Regions from separate parts of the Homo sapiens genome. Here regions 1 and 2 are each linked to region 3. Evidence: fine-mapped expression QTL. A gene starts in region 3. Each other region holds a variant in brackets. All regions are shown on one strand. Distances are between the middles of the regions.

What was found. PIP is the estimated chance that this variant, and not a neighbour inherited with it, causes the effect.
Region 1: its variant is the best candidate, but not a certain one, in a credible set for the expression of ECE1 in whole blood (INTERVAL, PIP 0.65).
Region 2: its variant is the best candidate, but not a certain one, in a credible set for the expression of ECE1 in whole blood (INTERVAL, PIP 0.80).

The regions. Positions count from the first base shown.
Region 1 is chr1:21,338,570-21,342,738 of GRCh38, forward strand. It overlaps a transcript of ECE1 not described here. Among named protein-coding and RNA genes, the nearest start is that of ECE1-AS1, 47 kb to the left of the region's middle. RefSeq lists an enhancer at 1-874. The variant C/CG (reference allele first, on the strand shown) is at 2,373.
Region 2 is chr1:21,317,433-21,321,634 of GRCh38, forward strand. It overlaps a transcript of ECE1 not described here. Among named protein-coding and RNA genes, the nearest start is that of ECE1-AS1, 26 kb to the left of the region's middle. RefSeq lists enhancers at 1-427, 428-1,245, 2,064-2,881 and a silencer at 2,634-2,873. The variant G/A (reference allele first, on the strand shown) is at 1,966.
Region 3 is chr1:21,288,147-21,292,146 of GRCh38, forward strand. It overlaps ECE1 (endothelin converting enzyme 1), which reads right to left and starts at 2,317. Exons shown (of 19, transcript NM_001397.3): 1 at 2,218-2,317; 2 at 1,924-2,010. The coding sequence starts at 2,268. RefSeq lists an enhancer at 761-1,322 and silencers at 1,999-2,168, 2,219-2,398.

The sequences.
Region 1 (4,169 bases), 51 kb after region 3:
GAGAGTATTATACTTGTCATCCTGCATGTCATTACTGAAGACGGCCCTGGAGTCAGTCTGCTCCAGCCATGTCATTTCACAGATGGGAAGACTGAGGCCCACGAAGGAAGACCGTGGTTCAGGAGGACAAGGATTAGTGGCAGAGCCTGGGCTGGAAGCCACCCTGGCCTTGCTTTCAATGACCAGATCAGAGCCTGGGAGCGGGCCATGTGCAGCTGGATGGGCAGCTGGAGGGAGTCAGGCAGGGAGGTGGGAGGCTCTGCTTCCAGGCAGAGGTAAATATTGACATGACTGTGTTTACGCTGTAACCTAACTCTGCCTGGCTGCTGCCCCAGGCCCACCCTCCTGCCTTCCCAGCCAAGGAGGGAAGGGAGCTGTGGGAGGAGGATGGGGAGAGGAGGCTTCTGGGCCAGGGGCTGCTCCTCCTGCTTAGAGGGCTATGTGGTCAGAAAGGCTGGGACATCAGGTGTTAGGGGTGGGGGTTAGTGGAGACCCAGGCCAGGGGACCAGGTGGTGCCAGACAGGGAGGGGCTGTTATCTGAGCTGGGGAGCTGGGGATCTCAGGGCGGGGGACTGGGCTGGGAGTCACAAGGCCTGAGTTCAAGTTCTAGTTCTGCTACTGATTGGCAGTGGGAATCCAAGAACAGTCGGTGAATGGGGAAGAAAAGGTCTAACTGTCAAGTGCGGTGCAAAGGTGAACAATAAATAACCAGCATTTGAGCCTGGCCAGTGTCCAGCCCCAGTGAGCTCTCAACGCCTCTGGCTACCGGCTCAACAGTCCTATCCCTGTCCCAGTGGGCTTTCCCAGGAAGGCCAAGTTTCTGCCAAACTGAGTGGCAGCTTGGGACTGAAGCCATAATAATCTAGAGGAATCGGGGAGCCACTGTCTAGCTCCCGTCCCTAATTCCCTAAGTGACCTTTGAGCCTCAGCTTTTACAACTCTGAAATAAGGCTCACCCTCCTCCCTGGGGTTGGTGTGAAGAGCAGAGATTACATTTAAGTGCCAGGCACATAGTAGATGCTCATTTTGTCTCTCAGTCTTCCCACTTGTCAAACAGGGGCCTCGAAGTTGGTGGTTCCTAATCCCCTTTTCATACAAGCGCTCTAGCGTCTTTAGAAGGCCCAGAAGCCAGGCCCACCTCCCTGATGTTAGATCCCCACCTAGCCGATTTCCTGAATGCTCTCTAGAAACTTGCTCCCCTGTTTACACCTCCCCCCAGGAAGTCCAAAGGGGCCCTGTTGGGAGGAGGGAGCCATTCCTAGGCTTGTCAGCCCACCAAGACAGGCCTGGGGCATCCCAGCCACTCTGCCCTCAGGGGCCCAAGGAAAGGGCAGGCCCCAGGTCCTGGACTCCAGTGCCACCCTGACAGTGGGGTTCCGCCAGCACTGGTTGTTCATTAAACTGTGCCCCTCAGACTATTAACTCTTCAAGGACAAGTGAACCCCCCTCCTAATTTTTTATGTGTCCAAAACTTGGCGTCTAGGAAGCATTCCACCAAGTGTTAACACCTCTTCTGGGAAGGCTTCCCTGATACACACCTATGGGCAGGATGACTCTGGAGCTGCATCCCCAGGTTGGCACATAGCATTTTCTACCTTATTTCAGAGCGATCTGGGAACTTGTTCTTTCTCCTCTATTAAAGGCTCTGGAGACCAGGGCCCTCGGCTGGTTATCTGCCTGAAAGGATGAGGGGAAGGGTCAATACATTCAGGAGAAGGGGCTGTCTGGGACCTCTGTCTGGGGCCACAGCCTCCTTCTGTCTTCACTGACTGCTCTGGGCAGCATGCCAGGGGCGTGGTTTGGGCTAGAGGAGGACTGGATGGTGCCTGCAGCACCACCTTTCTCCCAGGGCCACTTCAGGTGCCTCCTCACTGGTTTCCCAGCCTTCGGCCTCACTCCTTCTACTCAATCACCACAAAGCAGCCTGTGACCATCTCAGAATGCAAATCCGACCGTGTCACTCCCCTGACTCTAAACTCCTCAGTAGGCTGGGTGCGGTGGCTCACACCTGTAATCCCAGCACTGTGGGAGGCTGAGGCGGGTGGATCACTTGAGGTCAGCAGTCCAAGACCAGCCTGGGCAACATGGCGAAACCCGGTGTCTACTAAAAAAATACAGAAGTTAGTCGCATGGTGGCACGCCTGTAATCCCAGCTACTCGGGAGACTGAGGAGAATCACTTGAACCAGGGAGGCTGAGGCTGCAGTGAGCTGAGATTGCACCACTGCACTCAGCCTGGGTGACAGAGCAAGACTATGTCTCAATAAATAAGTAAATTAATTAAATTTAAAAAATAAACTCCTGAGTGGCTCCCCACTGCCCTAAGGATTGAGCCCCAGGTCCTTCATATGACCATCCCTGAGTGCACCCTC[C/CG]GGGCCACCTCCTAAGCACAGTCCTCCGTGCCTCCAGATGAACCATCCCTGAAGGCACAGCGGTCTGTACTCTTGCACATTCTGCTCCCTCCACCCCCCGCCCCCCAACACTCTTCCCAGTCCCACTCGCTCTTTAGGTTATGATTTTAATGCCATGTGCTCAGGGAGCCTTTTCTGATCCTCAGGTCAGGTTCCCGGTCCAATCCCACAGCCCCCCGCGTGTCTCCCTGACAACAGTAATTGCGCTTGTAATTTCCTGCTCTGTATCTGTCTGCCTGCCTGTCCATCAGACTGTGGGAGAGAGAGACCTATCAGTCTCACTCACACTGACCACGGCCCCCATGCCTCGTGTTGTGCCAGACAGACTTGTTTGGTGAGTGAGTGAATGAACAAATGAATGAAGCCCTTTGACTATGGCAGGAGGCTTACCCAGTCAATTGGAGAGAAAAAAATTGAGCAGAAGCACAAAAAATTGTAAACATTTGCTCATGGTTCCTCTCTCACCGTAGACATGAAAGTGTGGACTTGGCCAAGCTGGTTTTCTGGGCTAACGCCCAGAACATTCTGCCAAGCCCACCTTGTAGCCCTCTCATGCCTCAAATCCTGTTCTTCCCCTGGCCTCCCCAACTCTGCAGGGAAAACAATGTATTTATTCTTTAACAAAAGGTAACAACATCCTTGTTTACCAAAAGAGTGTAGCAATGTAAGGAGGCCTCAGTAGCCCAGTCACCAGCAGGGGCACAGGCTGCCCAGGGTGAAGTACGCACTGTGCTCTGGGAGCCCCATCTGGAGTGGCTGAGAGGCACCAGAGTGACGTGGGGGCATGTGGTTAGTCTCCTATCTTCAAACAGTAACGCTTCTCCCTACCTTTTTTTTTTTTAAGATAGGGTCTCACTATGTTGCCCTGGCTGATCTTGAACTCCCGGCCTCAAGTGATCCTCTCGCCTCGCCCCCGCAAAATGCTGGGACTACAAGCGTGAGCCACTGCCCCCGGACTCCCTCACATTCTTAATAGTTCCCACAGTGTTTCTACATACATTGTACCCTCACAATATCTGGAGAAGTGGAGCAAATCTGCCCCACTTTGTAGGAAAGGGGGCACAGAGCCGGGGAATGGCTGACCCAAGGTCACACAGCAAGCTGGTAGTACATCAGGATTCAAACCAAAACCCTGGGCCCTGTTCTCAACTCAACTGCTGTATAGTAAAGAGCATTCCCAACCCTCAGCGGTAGCCTCAACTCAGCCCCAGCTTGGAAAGTGAAGGAACATTCTCAAGGTGCCACAGCTGCAGATGGGGGATGATGGGTTGGGTCTCCTTCCCCCAACTGTCTGCCAGGTTACCCCTCCAAAAGTCCAGGAGGTTTGTGCCTGTTCTGGTACTATCTTGCTCTGTGACCCTGGGCAACCTCCTTCACCTCTCTGTGCCTGCTGCAGGGTGGTTTGAGTACAACCGGAGGCAGGAGACATAAAAAGCCTCCTCAGAACCCTCGGCCCACGGCTTGCACTGGGAGAAAACAGGGGGAGACGGTCCATCCGAGGCCCTTAAGAACAGCACTGACTCCCTGCCAAGGGGTTAGAGACGTGGGTGGGGAGCTGGTGACCATCAGGGAGATTCAGTGAGGACAACAGGAAACACATCACACAGACACACAGACACACACAGATACACACACACACACACACACACACACACACACACACACACGCCCTGCAAACGCGCCGCATTAGGAACCCAGGGGCCAAGGACAACTTGGCCACACTGCAAAGAAGTGAGTGCTGGATTTGTTTAAAAGCCG
Region 2 (4,202 bases), 29 kb after region 3:
GATGGGGAAAAGGGTTTGCTTGTCACAAGGCCAGTCCAGCCCGCGGCGACGCTGAGCTGGTGACGCATCTGCAGCTCTGGGGATTGAGCAATCTTGGTCCCCTGACCGGGATGGAGTCATGGGCCCAGGCTGGCTGGAGCCCCTCTACTGCTCCCCACCCGCTTCTCAGACTTTGTGTTCCTGGCCTTCTTGGGACCCCTCCAGGCTGGCAGCCACACCCTCCCCTCTGTGAGCTAGGCAGGAAAGCCCGGTTCCATTCCTGCCCAGTTCTCTTCGGCCTCTCCTGAGCCCCTGCTCCCCAACTCAAGGTGGGGTCCTAACCACCTTGCATCCAAACAGATCCTCTGGAGACGCACGAGTGGGTCAGGGCAGTCAAGAGCTGTGCAGGCTCAGACAGGTCATGTGACTTCTGTAGGTCCCTGGCTTTAGCAGGTGTGGCCGAAGGTGTGGGGTGCCAGTGTCTGTCTCCTGGTTCAAATCCAGGCTCGGGGTGTGACCCCAATGTTCTTGAACTTAAATCAGAGCCACCGCGATCTCTTTCTCGAAGTGGGGACAAAACACATGCAAAGCAGGGCCTGCCCCTCCAAGGTGCACCTTGAAGGTATCAGACGGCATGGACGAGGTCCCCTCGCTGGCTGCTGTGACGGTTAAACGATTCTTCCCAGCTCTGCACAACTCAAGTGATAGCTGTTGGACTCGGAGATGAACAAGAGTGAGGGAAACGGTGGGGGAGAGCAGTGGGCAAGACCTGGCGTGGCAAGTGGGGAGCAGGAGGCCCTCGTGTGGACTCGCAGAGACCCAAACCCAATGAAACAAGTACCCTGCTGGCGCATGTGCAGGAACTGATCAGCGTTCCTGAGGGCCCAAGGACATTTCCAGGGCACAGCTTGGGGAGGGCAGCAGAGTGGGAGCAGCTGTGAAATTGGGTTTCAGGTCATGACGCAGTTGGGGAACTTATTTCCTTCATCCCTGCCCTTTCCTGACCCTGTCCCACTCCCTTAACAAAGGTCAGCCTGGCCTAGGGGTGTCCTCCCTGGAGACCTCCCCTCCCTTGTGCCTCAGCCTCTCACTGTCTTTGGGGCAGACATTTCTCCGCTCTGGGCTTCAGTTTCTCTATCTGTAAAATGGGTGGGGTGATATTTCAGGCCTTAGCAACTTCTAAAATCCCATTTTTTGAAGATTTAGAACCAGTGAGCCTTCCTGAGGCCCACTTCACAAGCCTATCCAAGCAGAGGTGGCAAAATCCTCCTCCCTGGGTGAGAGGCAGGCGACACCCCTGAGTTGGTCACACCAGCCTTCCAAGGAGCTAACCCGACCTGACAGTCACTTCAGCCTGGCCAGGCCCCCAGGCAGTGTGCCAAAAAGCGGACGGGGGAGGGGATTTGCAGCAAGAGCTACAGCTCCCCAGAGGCCGCACTTCTGTCGGGGGAGACGCTGAGCGAGGGTCAGAAGAAAGTCAGCATGGGAAATGTGACGTCAGCAGAGGCAGATGCGAAGGAATACTATCCGAAAATGCTTCCGTAAACTCACCCTCCCAGGAAGCCAAATTCTGTGGGTTTTCAGTGGAGCTGGGTCTGTACAATCTCCCGGGCTCCGTTTTCTCATCAGCTAAGTCAAAATAATAAAGTGAGGCCAGGCACGGTGGCTCAAGCTCGTAATCCAAGCACTTTGGGAAGCCAAGGTGGGTGGATTGCCTGAGCTTAGGAGTTCGAGACCAGCTTGGGCAACATGGTGAAACCCCGTCTCCACTAAAATACAAAAAAGTAGCCAGGCGTGGTGGTGTGCGTCTATAATCCCAGCTACTTGGGAGGCTGAGGTGGGACAATCGCTTGAACCCGGGAAGTGGAGGTTGCAGTGAGCCGAGATCGCATCACTGCTTTCCAGCCTGGGAGACAGAGCGAGACTCCGTCTCAAAATAATAATAATCATAATCATAATCATAATCATAATCATAAAGTGGACTAC[G/A]CAGGGCTTTTCTAGAGACATGATAAGACCTCGTGTCTAAATGGCCTGGTACATACTAGGGCCTCCATAAATGCCGGCTCCATGCTGCCCCCACCTCTGTCCACCAGGGCACCCCCGGCACCAAGGGCCAGACTCCCTCTGCTGCCCCCAATCTGCTTCTCAGACTTTCTGCTCCTGGCCTTCCTGGGAGCCCTCCAAGCCAGCAGCTGTGCCCTCCCCTCTGTGAACTGGGCAGGAAAGCCAGGCTCCATCCCTGTCCAACTCTCCTCAGCCTCTCCTGAGACCTGGCTCCTCATTCTCGCCACTCCCTACCAGGCACCGGGAGGCACGGCTCACTGTTCCCTAGTTTGTCTTGGTCCCCCAGAGGGCCAACAAGCAGTCTGGGTGTTTACATTAGTTCAGCTGAGACAGGCTGAACAAACACACGCGGTCCCATGGCTTCTAGTGCCAGCCCCCACACACCACTCGCCACCCAGGCTGTCTTGAGTCCACAGGTGTCCCCACCCCACTCCAGATCTTCTGTTTACACTCGGCAGCAGCGTCCCATCTTTTGACTTCCCTGGGCCACAATGTAAGAAATATTGTCTTGGGTCACACATAAAATACACCAACGATAGCCGATCAGCTAAAAAACAAAGGTGCATGCATAAATCTCAGAATGTTTTAAGAAAGTTTATGAATCTGTGGTGAGCCGCATTCAAAGCCATCCCAGGTCACATGCGGCCCACGGGCCGCAGGTTGGACAAGCTCATTCACAGATTCTCCCCATGGATTCTGTTTGAGGTTTGCTGCGTCCAGCTGATACCTGGTGAGACACTAACCCCGCCCACGACTATCTCCAGGCTCCAGCCGTCAACAGCTGTATGGGCTCAAACAGGTCACCGGACTTCTCATTTATAAAATGGGGATGGTGACAGGGCCAACCCCACAGAGGACTGCTACGATCAAATGGGATAATGAGAGGTAGGCGCTAAGCACGTTGCCTGCAGGGCTCATGGAAGGTGCTGGAGAAATAAGCTTTTTAAAAAAAATTTAATACTGTTTTATGAGTAATTGAAGAGTTTGGCCAGAAGTCAGTGGGTCCTGAGAATACAACCTAAAAATAAGTAGAAAATTCTTGGCCAGACTGTGCTAAGCACTTTCCATGTATTATCAACGCCTCGCAGCAACCCCAGGAGATATGGTATGCCATCATCCTTCATTTGCATAGACAGGGAACTGAGGCTCAGAGAGGTTGAGTCACTCACAGGGGGTCACACAGCTCCCTGAAGGACGCACGTGTCTGTTCCAGAGCCTGTGCTCTTATCTTCCACACTCACCCAAGCTCCTATAGGGGCCGCAGCCTCATCTCTGTGTCTTTCTTCCCCACCCTTCCTTCATTCTGCGGAGGGTTCCTGAGGTCCCCAGCCTCCTCTAGGCCATGGAGTCCTGGGAGCTGCCAGCAGCGTGGAGCTCGGCTGTGCAGCCTCCCCTGCCTACTGCCGAGGTGGTGCCTTGAGGAGCTGTGATGGTCTTCCCTTGCCCTGGGTCTGAGCCTCTAGGATCCTGCTGCTGCAGAACCTCCTGGTTTGGAAAAGGGGAAAGGAGCTGTCTGTAACTCATCATTTAACCCATGCCAGGCACCGCGCAGATATTTTCCCACATAATCTTCATGATCACCCTGTGCTGGAGGTACTACCATCCCCACTTTACAGAGGAGGAAACCGAGGTTCCAAGAGGTGGTGTCACTTGCCAAGGGTCCCAGAGCTAGTGCGTGGCGGAGCTGGGGACTCAAACCCAGGTTGCTCTGACTCAAAGCCCACAATCTTGCTGCTCCCCAGGCTGGCCCCTGCTCCTGGGAGAGATAAGACCCCATATAAACAACCCTAACATAAACCAGAAAGCCAGGCAGGCCTTCAGGAGGCCCAGATAACAGCTGGGAAGATACACAAAGAGGGGCTCAGACTTCCTGGGGAAATCTCTGTGTGAATAACATAAGAGGAATTCTCCACTGGGAGGAGCAGCCCTGGGGCCCCCAGCAGCCATGTCCTGGAAGAGGGTCTGTTGGGGACCTAGGCCTGACCACAGGAAAGACAATTTCCAGTGCAGTGGCCCATGGGTGCCTTCACAAGTAATCAATATGGAATGAGCACCTACGGTGTGTTGGGCCAGGCACCAGGCTTGTCATGCACTTATTATCTTTCTCCATTCTTTCTGCAGTCCTGTCACACAGGATTGATTGATTGATTGATTGATTG
Region 3 (4,000 bases):
CCTCTTTGCCTTTTCCTGCAAGGAAAGTGGAAAATGTATCCATTTGGGGACAGGACACTAACTCCAACCATAGACAACAGCGACGTGACCCCAGGAATGTCTCTAACCTCTCTTTGTCCCTCACCTTTATCATCAATAATGTGGCCACGCCAGCCCTTACTTCATGGGTCATAAAACAATAATCCTAGCAGGCTGCATATAATATGTATGACATCCACTTTCTCTAACATCCATTTCACAGTGAGGCCATCACCACTGAAAGAGATTAAGCCACTAGCCCAAGGTCGTGAGTGGAGTAAGAACTCAAACCCGGGTCGCTGGCTTCAGAGACGGGGCTCCTCCTGCTTGGCCGGGGGCCCTCCCCAGAGAAATGTGCTATTTCATCTGAAAAAGGTTATACCCCAAACAGGCTGCTGTGAGGATAACAGCAACATGGCATTATTACTTTGCTGTGAATTCTGAAATGCTTTTGTGTTGATATATTTAGACCCTTCTGTGGAAGATGAGACTGAAAAACATTGCTGATTAGATTCTGTTTTGATTTGAGAAGGGAAAAGCACCTGCCCCAGAAATCTAATTTCCTGCTGGCTTCAGCCTCTTAAGAAGAGTCCACTGGGAAGAGGTTTGAGACAGACAGGGTTTGACGTGTCGCTCTCGGATTTTTAGCTCGGTGACCGAAGGCCAGTGGTTGCCCCTCTCAGAGCCTCAGTTTCCACATCTGTAAGTGGGGACAGTAATCCCTACAGGTCTCAGGGGTGTTCCTGAAGGTTAAGCAGGGGTACCACACATCCCAGTGGGTAGAGCCCTTGGGACTGTGAGTTTGGGTCCCCTGGGCCTATGTGACCCTGGAGGAGGAACTCCATCAATGGTGTCTCCCTGCGCTGGGAGGATTATTCCCGCTTCTAAGAGGCGTATCTGAGTGGAGTGGGCCTGGCAACTAAGCGTCCATTCATCCTAAGCTCGCCTTTGGGAAGAGTTGTGTGCCAGTTCACCAAGTGGCCCCAAGATTCTCCCAAATACTTCCCTTGGTCTACCTGGCAGAAGTCCTCCGAGAATTGGGGTGCCCCAGCTCCTCTTTCTACACTGGCTTCTCAAGAGCCAGATCACTGGGTCTCCTAGGGTGTCCGCAGCGTTTCCAGCACCTTCCCACGCACCTGGCTGGCTCCAAACCCCTCCAGCACTGAGGTCTTGGCCACAACTGTCCCAGTGCAGCCCCCCAGGGACGGGAGGGCAGAAAGCAGCCTTGCTCAATGTCCTGTTACAAGGCAGGGACGGGGGTGGGGCCCTCCCCAGGAGTGGGCAGATGGGATGCCCACGGGCGGAGACCCTGGGGAGGGGAGGAATTGGACTTCCTTAGTAGGCTGGAAAAGGGGCAGGGAGAGGGGGCAGAGAACAGGTTTCTGGCCCCAGGAAACTCAGGTATTGGGAGGGCAAGAGGAAGAGGGTGGTACTGCCTCCCGGATAAGGTGACCAACTTTCCCAGTTTGCCCCGGACTGGGGGAGTGGGTTCCAGGGATGCAGGGCTTTCCACGCTAAAACAGAAACAGCCGTAGACTCTGCCGGTAAAGGGCCTGGGCAAGTCCCGGGACATGCACAAACTGTGCCTTCTGTGGAAAGGGAACTGGACCAGTTCGGGTCTCGGGGGTGCTTTCAACTCTGCCACCTGGGCTGTGGCCCCAGAAGCAGGTGGCCGGGAGGCTCTAGGGATGGCGGGGGCAGGTGAGGGGAGACTGGTGGGCTCCGGAAGGCTTCTCAGCGCGGAGCTCCAGCTGCGGGGAGGCGCGGCCCCTCCCGGATGCCGGGACGAGGGAGGGGAAGGGAGGGGAAGAGGCGGGGTAGGTAGGGGCGGGGGGCGCGGCAGCGGCAGCGCGCATGCCCGGGCCCGGGGCGCCTGGACCTCGGGAGGGAGCGGAGGGCGCCTACCTGCAGGCCGTTGGGGTATGCGTCGCCCTCGGAGAGCGAGTCCACCAGGTCCTCCTCGTCCAGCGTGGCCCGCTTGTACGTCGACATCTGCAAGGCCAAATGCAGCACGGACTCCCTCAGCGCCTCCATGGCTCTCGCGCCCGAATGGGGAAGCGGCCCCGACCCTGGCGCCGCCGCCGCCGCGCCCCGCCCCGGCCTGGACACCCGAGACCGAGACCGGCCCACGGAGCGGCCCGCGCGGGGAGGGGTCCCGCCCGCCTCCCGCCCCCGCCCTCCAGGCCGCGCCCGCCTCACCCCCAGCGCCGACAGCAGGGCGGACACCGGGGGCGGCCACACGCCCCGCATGCTGTGCCCCAGACGCCTGGTCCCGCTGCCCGGGTGGCCGGGATGGGATGGGCCGGGCCAGGCGTTGCACCACCTTCGCGGGCGGGGCCTGATCGGTTCGCCGGCGCCCGGTTCCCAACCTCCGGCCTCCCGGGGAGACCCCAAGACCCGAGAGGCCCGGGGGAGATGGGGACCCCTCCCTTCCCCGGAGGTCGGGAGTGGGGGCCCCCAAACTGAAGCCCCTAGCAGGCAGGAAAGGCCCTCACAGTGACCCCTCCTTCGAGAAAATCTTAAGTCCCCCTTCAACAACCGGGTCCCCAGTGGCAGATAACAAAAGTATCAGGAAGGTGCCCTCGATGTGGCCCAGAGCAATCAAGACAGGTTCCCCCCGGCATCAGCCCTTAGGTGTGTCTAGGGGGTTAATGCTAGAAAGACCAGACAAAAAAGGTGGGGTAAAAAGGTAGGTGTCCCCTTTCAGTTCCCCTTTCTAGCTCAGAGGCCTTTAAGCCAGAGTTCGTGAATGAGTTTCAGAAAATTTCAGAGAACTCCCTGACACGGGATGAAAGGAGCTGTGTGTGTGCATTTGGATGGCTGCAGGGTGGTCCGGTGGTCACCCCCGTGCTCAAAGGTGTCGCCCTCCCTGCAACACAAGAGAACCATTGCTCCAGGGGGAGTCAGAAGCCAGGAAGGGGACCCTTCTTTCCCATCTTCCCCCTCAAGACTCGGAGCCTCAGCCAGGTGCCCCCCTCCCCAGCCCCTGAGCCCTCTCCTATAACCCTAGGCAGGGAAAGGGGGCTCTCTCGGATATGAGGTGTTCAGTTAGGGACTCAGGCCCAGCACTGTCCCAACCAAGAACCCCAGAGAGGTCTAACCCAGCAGATTTCCAAAGGACTCTCCGCTTCTAGCAAGGCGGGAATCCCTGCATTTATGCGTACTTTTCAGCTTTGCAAAGTGCATTTCTGCTCATTCCAAATTTGATTCTCACAGTCACACATATGTGTGAATAAACAGGTTTAGAGGGGTGAGGGGCCTGACGTCACAGGGACAGTGAGGGCAATGGCTCCAGATGGTCTCCTGGCTTCCACTCCTGCCCTCTGACAGCCCCCTCAGCAGCCAGGATGAGCCTTTAAAATGAAATCTGGCTGAGGCCAGGCACCATGGCTCGCTCGCGCCTGTAATCCCAACACTTTGGGAGGCCAAGTTGGGTAGATCACTTGAGGTCAGGAGTTCAAGACCAGCCTGGCCAACATGATGAAACCCCATCTCTACTAAAAATACAAAAAATCAGCTGGGCCTGGTGGCATGCATCTGTAATCCTAGCTACTCAGGAGGCTGAGGCAGAAGAATCGCTTGAACCCAGGAGGTCGAGGTTGCAGTGAGCTGAGATTGTGCCACTGTACTCTAGCCTGGGTGACAGAGTGAGACTCCATCTCAAACAAACAAACCACAGAAATCTGGCTGGGTTCAGTGGTTCACACCTGTAATCCCAGCACTTTGGGAGGCTGAGGCAGGAGATCACTTGAGTCTAATTCTAGGCCAGCCTGGGCAACACGGACCCCATCTCTACAAAAAGAAAATATATATATATATATTTATATATTATATATTTTTAATTAGCAGGACGTGGTGGTATGCGCCTGTAGTCCCAGCTACTTGGGAGGCTTAGGTGGGAGAATCGCTTGAAGCCAGGAGGTGGCGGCTACAGTGAGCTGTGATTGCACCACTGCACTCCAGCGTGGACGACACAACAAGA